Linked DNA regions of Homo sapiens: region 2 is linked to region 1. Evidence: fine-mapped expression QTL. Tissue or cell type: whole blood. Region 1 holds a variant in brackets; the other region holds the start of a gene. All regions are shown on one strand. Distances are between the middles of the regions.

Region 1 (2,682 bases):
TCTACAGGGATTTTTGGCTGTCACGACTTGGGATGGGAGTGCTACTACTGGCATCTAGTGCAGTGCGCAGGGCAGAGATGATGCTGCACATCTTACAATGCACAGGACAGCTCCCACACAATGAGGAACTGTCCAGCCCCAAATGTCAGTAGTGCAGAAGTGTATAAACCCTGTATTTTAAAGCATGAGCAAAGTGATAATATGTGCTGGGATACTGACTGCGGCATTGTCTGTAATATCAAAACAAACATCAACGTCTCCCAATAGAGGATATAATGGAATACTATTCATCTAAGCCCCTGTCACTAGGAAGGAGAAGGGGAATTTGAATGTATTTCCCAAGAAGTAATGACATTATACTAATGAGGTTTTCAACTACCACTTTTGCCTAAAGGTGTTTATATGCCTCTGAAATGGCTGGAGCATGCTTTCTCATTCAGAAAGTTCACATGGCCTGACAGGGAGGCAAACATGGCCACAGCCAGTGTCTGCAGAGCATACTGGGGGCAAATGAGACTCTCCAGAAAACAGGAACATAAATGCTTAAGGCTTCAAAATGGCACTCTGTGTAAATGCATTAGTAAAAACTGAGACTCTCACAGTAATTCTGAATCAGGACAGTTGGTATCCATGCACAGATGGCAGGGGCATGAGCCACGTGGGCCCTCAGAGACCCAGCCAGAACCATCCCCTGGCCACTAAAGGCTGCACTGGTTCTCCACCCAGGATGCTTATTTGCATCTCTGGGCCTCAGCCCAGATGAAATAAATTAGAATCTCTGCAGGTACAATCTGGATTTGTTCTTAACACACTCGAGCGATTCTGATGTGGAGCCAGTTGAGACTACTGGGTTAAGGGTTCTTACCAGTTAACTGAGAAAGGACAACTGAAACTGAGAAGACAACCATCTCTGAGCACAAATTATCCATACGTAAAAGGCATCTAGTTCTCTAAAAAAAGGAGGGGGATCACATTCATAAGAGAGGTGGTGAGGCTCTAGAACGACATCCCAGGGCATGAAAGCTGGTGGAAGCCCTTCAGTACTGGAGAGCACTCAGGTCAGACCGGGCTGGCTGTCACCTAGAAAAAGCGGATTTGCTTGGGACACATGAAGCAAGGGAACTGGTGCTATGGTTGGCAGGTATGGGGTGCAAATTCTAGCTCAATACTAAGAATCCAACCCTCACACTTTG[G/C]TGGTGGGAATGTAAGACAGTGCAGCTCGGAGAATGGTTAAACAAAGTTACCATGTACCTCGCAATTCTACTCCTAAGTACATACCCAAGAGAAAGACAAACTGTCTACACCAAAAAAATTGCACATGAATGCTTACAATGGCATTATTCAGAACAGCCAAAAGACGGAAACAACCAAAATGTCCATCAACTGATGACTGGATAAACAAAATGTGGTGTATCCATACAATGGAACCTTTGGCCATAAAAATGAAGAAATGATACACGCTATAACATGGATGAATCTTCAAAACATCATACTAAGTGAATGAAACCCATTGAAAAGACCACATATTGATTCCACTTATACAAAATAGGCAAATCTACACAGACAGAAAGTAGATTGTTGGTTACTTTAGAGCTGGCGAGAGTGGGGAGATACAAGAGTGATAGCTAAAACGTTTCTTTCTGAGGTGACAAAAATGTTCTAAAACTGACTCTGTTGATGACTATACACATCTGTGAACATACTTTCATTAGGTGAATTGTATCTCAATAAAGCTATTTTTAAAAGAATCTAAGATTAAGTTGTTCAAAAAGAATAGGCTGCATAGGGAGACCTTCACCTACAACTGCATTCTGCAGAGTGGCAGATACATTATGGTGATTAGACTGGATGTCTTTTAAAAATCCTTCCTGAAACAAGTTTTTTGTCCTTACGTCTTTATTTAAAATTGCAGAATGTCAGGGAAGCAGTAAAGCATGATGGCCAAACATACAGGGAATCAGACAAGCTACATTCAAAACCAGCCTCCCCTACCTTCTGGCTGTCTGACCTCAAAAAAGTCACATTCCATGCTTCAGTTTTCTCATCTGTAAATTGGGAATAATACATATCCTGTGGTATTGTTGTCAAGACTGAACATGATGCCTATCAAGCTATCAGTGTAGTGCTTGGCACAAAATCCTCTATAAATAGAAGCTTCTACTACTAATCATCACCATAAAGCTGGAGGCAATAATAATAAAATGATGACAAACCACAACTTTAGTAGTTAATCTTTCAGAATTCTAGCCCAATGTCTTCATTTTATGGCTCAAATAACCGAGCCTCGGAAGGGTTTGATGATGGGGACAAGTTACGGAATGGCTGGTAACAGAGGCAGGACTAACACGCCCATCTGATGTCCAGTCGAGTGCACTTCTTGCTTCCCAGGCTGACTCCTCACTTGCTTTAGGGTGGATTACAATTCAGAAAAAAGCATCCATTTCTCCTAGTTTACTGTCAGAACATACATAGGCCCACCAAATGCCCCAACTGTAATGTAAACAAACACGCACACACAGGCATGAGGAAATGTGTGCTACGCTGAATTTAACGTCGAGTGTATCGGGACTGGTAGAGTGTAAGAAATTTGCTTGAATAGGAAGCTGTTGCTTAGTGGGGAAACTGCATGTTTCCAAACAGGGCAGCTCTCAGAGCGACTCAGTTGACATGAACCTGAAGTGC
Region 2 (2,682 bases), 65 kb before region 1:
CCTGTGCTACAGAGGGTCAACTTCTGCATGAGAAGGAATCCTGCCCTGAGCCTTGGGTCCTCTGCTCCCCACTGAAAACCAAGACGGCCTGGAAACCCAGGAGAAGCTCAGTGAAGCAGTGCCTCTAGTCTCCCACCTACCAGGGCGGCCTCTGGGGAGTGAGAGAGCAAGCCCTGCAGAGCCCACGCCTGGTCAGGAAGGGCTCTGGGGCCACCAGGCACAGAGAGGAGCAGAAGTCCATCTGTCTGGCAGTCACAGTCTTTCCTAGCATTTTACATGTTCAGGCCAGTGGCATGCTAGTTTCCAGTTTTAGAGAAAAACTGCAGGGAAGAATCCTGCCTGGTCCAGAAATCACCCATGTACCTGGAAAGTGGGCTCCAATTCCTCTATACCTTGGTTTTCCTGTTTGTAAAATGAGAGCTTCCCCCAATAGAGCCTTGTATGTTGTAAAAATTTATTCGAGAAAAAAAAAAGCATATGCATGTTCTGTGATTCAGCCCAGTCCACTGCATCAACTACTAACTGAGCACCGACGGAGTGCCCGGCACGGGGCTCCACCACCCTCTCAGCCATCAGGGATTTCAAACCCGGGCACCACGCCAGACAGAGCATGGCCATTGCTCCAGCAGAGGCACAAATGAGGAAGAGATTCTGATAGGGAGGTCACGGAAGGCCGACCAGAGGTGGAGGCAAGAACATGCGTGCAGGGCGGCCCTCTCTTCAGCCTCCTGCAGTTGGAGGACTCACACCCCGGCACTGTCAGGGCTGCCTACGCCCCGCGCTGCCCTCTTCCCAGCAGGCTCCCACCCTAGGCTCTCAAGCCAGCCACAGGGACTTGCATCCCCCAGAAAGCAATGCCACTCAGCCTCTTACCCCATCCCCGCACTTACCCCCATCTTATGCCACTTACCCCATCCCCGCATGCGGAAGGGAAGGAAGCGGCTGCGTTCTCCTGTGGAGCTTGGACATGTGCACATAAAGGGGCCGGCGCAGCTCCGGACAGTGGCCTCTGAGTCCAGCCTCCTCTTCCCTAGGGGAGCAGCTGTAGGAACAGTGACTTCCAATTGCCTTGGGAGCCTCCAGGGGCCCCCAGACGCTCACCTTTTCCTAGATGCTAGACTTGCGGGGAGCAAATGGACCCTCCGGCGATGAGTAGGGCTTCTAGAGCTAATTCTCTGTCTCTCTCTCGCGCGCGCGCGCATACACACACACACACACGCGCGCGCGCGCGCGCGCGCGCACACACACACACACACACCCTGGCTGATTGTACAGTCAATCTTTCAAAGTGCAATTTGTCTAGGAAAAGCCAATGTGAGGCCCGTGTGCGCCCCGACCAATGGCGGCGCGGCTCCGGCGGCTCAGCCAGTCTCCGGCCTGTATTCTAATGGGCCGTATCTTTATCAGGGAAATGTTCCTTCTCTGAACTTAAAACTTCTCATGGAGGGTCCCCCGACTCAGAGGCAGAAAGGGGGTCTGAGCTGAGGCTTAGGGGGCCACCCTGTCCGGCCAGGGCAAGGAGAGAGGCCAGGAGCCCTGGGGAGGCCTCCCACCTGCCCCGAGCACCTGACTTCCGAGCAGCTGATCGGGTGCCGGTTCCTGGGCCAGGGCCTGGCCCATGCCTTAGGTGGGAGGCAGTCAGGAGCTCGGAGACGGTCCTAAGCCTCCAGGCCTGCCATGAGATTTGGGGCTAGAGAGTGGGCTCTTGGGTTTTAGGGGCCTGGAGAAGCCTTCCCTGTCCTGACTGGGAGATCATGGAGTCCAACCTGCAGGGGACGTTCCTGCTGAACAACACGCCGCTGGCTCAGTTTCCGGAGATGAAGGCCCCGGTGTGCCAGTACTCTGTGCAGAACTCCTTCTACAAGCTCAGCCCCCCAGGGCTGGGCCCCCAGCTGGCCGCCGGAACCCCCCACGGGATCACGGACATCCTGAGCAGGCCCGTGGCTGCGCCGAACAACAGCCTCCTCTCCGGCTACCCCCACGTGGCAGGCTTTGGGGGGCTCAGCTCGCAGGGGGTCTACTACAGCCCCCAGGTAGGGAATTTTTCCAAGGCTGGGAACGAGTACCCGACCCGGACCCGGAACTGCTGGGCGGACACGGGCCAAGACTGGCGAGGCGGGCGGCAGTGCAGCAACAGTGAGTACGGGTCCTCCCCAGCCACCTCCCGGCACCCGCCAGGCCCCGGGGGGCAGAGGACGAGGAGGGGCCTCCTCCCGGGCACCCTGCACCTCCGCCCTCTCCCCCAGTCGCCATTAACCCCTGGACTCGTAGCCTCAGCTCAGTGCAGGCTGAGTTCCACCCTCTCCTCCTTCCCATCCAGCAGTGCTTGGACACAGGTGTCTGAGCCACCCCCCTCACATGCCAGCCACCTCAGCTGCCCTCCTAGGGCCCCCGGCAGTTCCAGATGTAGAGAAGGCCCCACAGCCCACGCCTGCCCTGCACGAGGTCCAGTAGGCAGCCCAGCTGGCTTCTGCAGCCCAGGGCCCATGCAACCACTTCTTCACCCAAAGCAGGCAAATGCTACCCCCGTGAGGAAAATGTCCTAGCTCACCTTCCCAGAGAGCCCTGGCATCACTCAAGGGTGCAGAACGCACCCTGACCCCATCCGGGTCCAGCCTTTGAGCCAGGGGGCTGTTGCCCACCACATCCTCGGGTTTCTAGCAACAGCAGCCACACCAAGTA

Evidence for each region. PIP is the estimated chance that this variant, and not a neighbour inherited with it, causes the effect.
Region 2: it holds the start of NKX6-3, and the variant in region 1 is fine-mapped to the expression of NKX6-3 in whole blood (TOPMed, PIP above 0.99).

The regions. Positions count from the first base shown.
Region 1 is chr8:41,585,017-41,587,698 of GRCh38, reverse strand. The region is part of intron 1 of GPAT4 (glycerol-3-phosphate acyltransferase 4); the gene reads right to left. Among named protein-coding and RNA genes, the nearest start is that of GPAT4-AS1, 8.0 kb to the right of the region's middle. RefSeq lists enhancers at 538-637, 748-887. The variant G/C (reference allele first, on the strand shown) is at 1,194.
Region 2 is chr8:41,649,565-41,652,246 of GRCh38, reverse strand. It overlaps NKX6-3 (NK6 homeobox 3), which reads left to right and starts at 1,430. Exons shown (of 3, transcript NM_001364841.2): 1 at 1,430-2,136. The coding sequence starts at 1,755.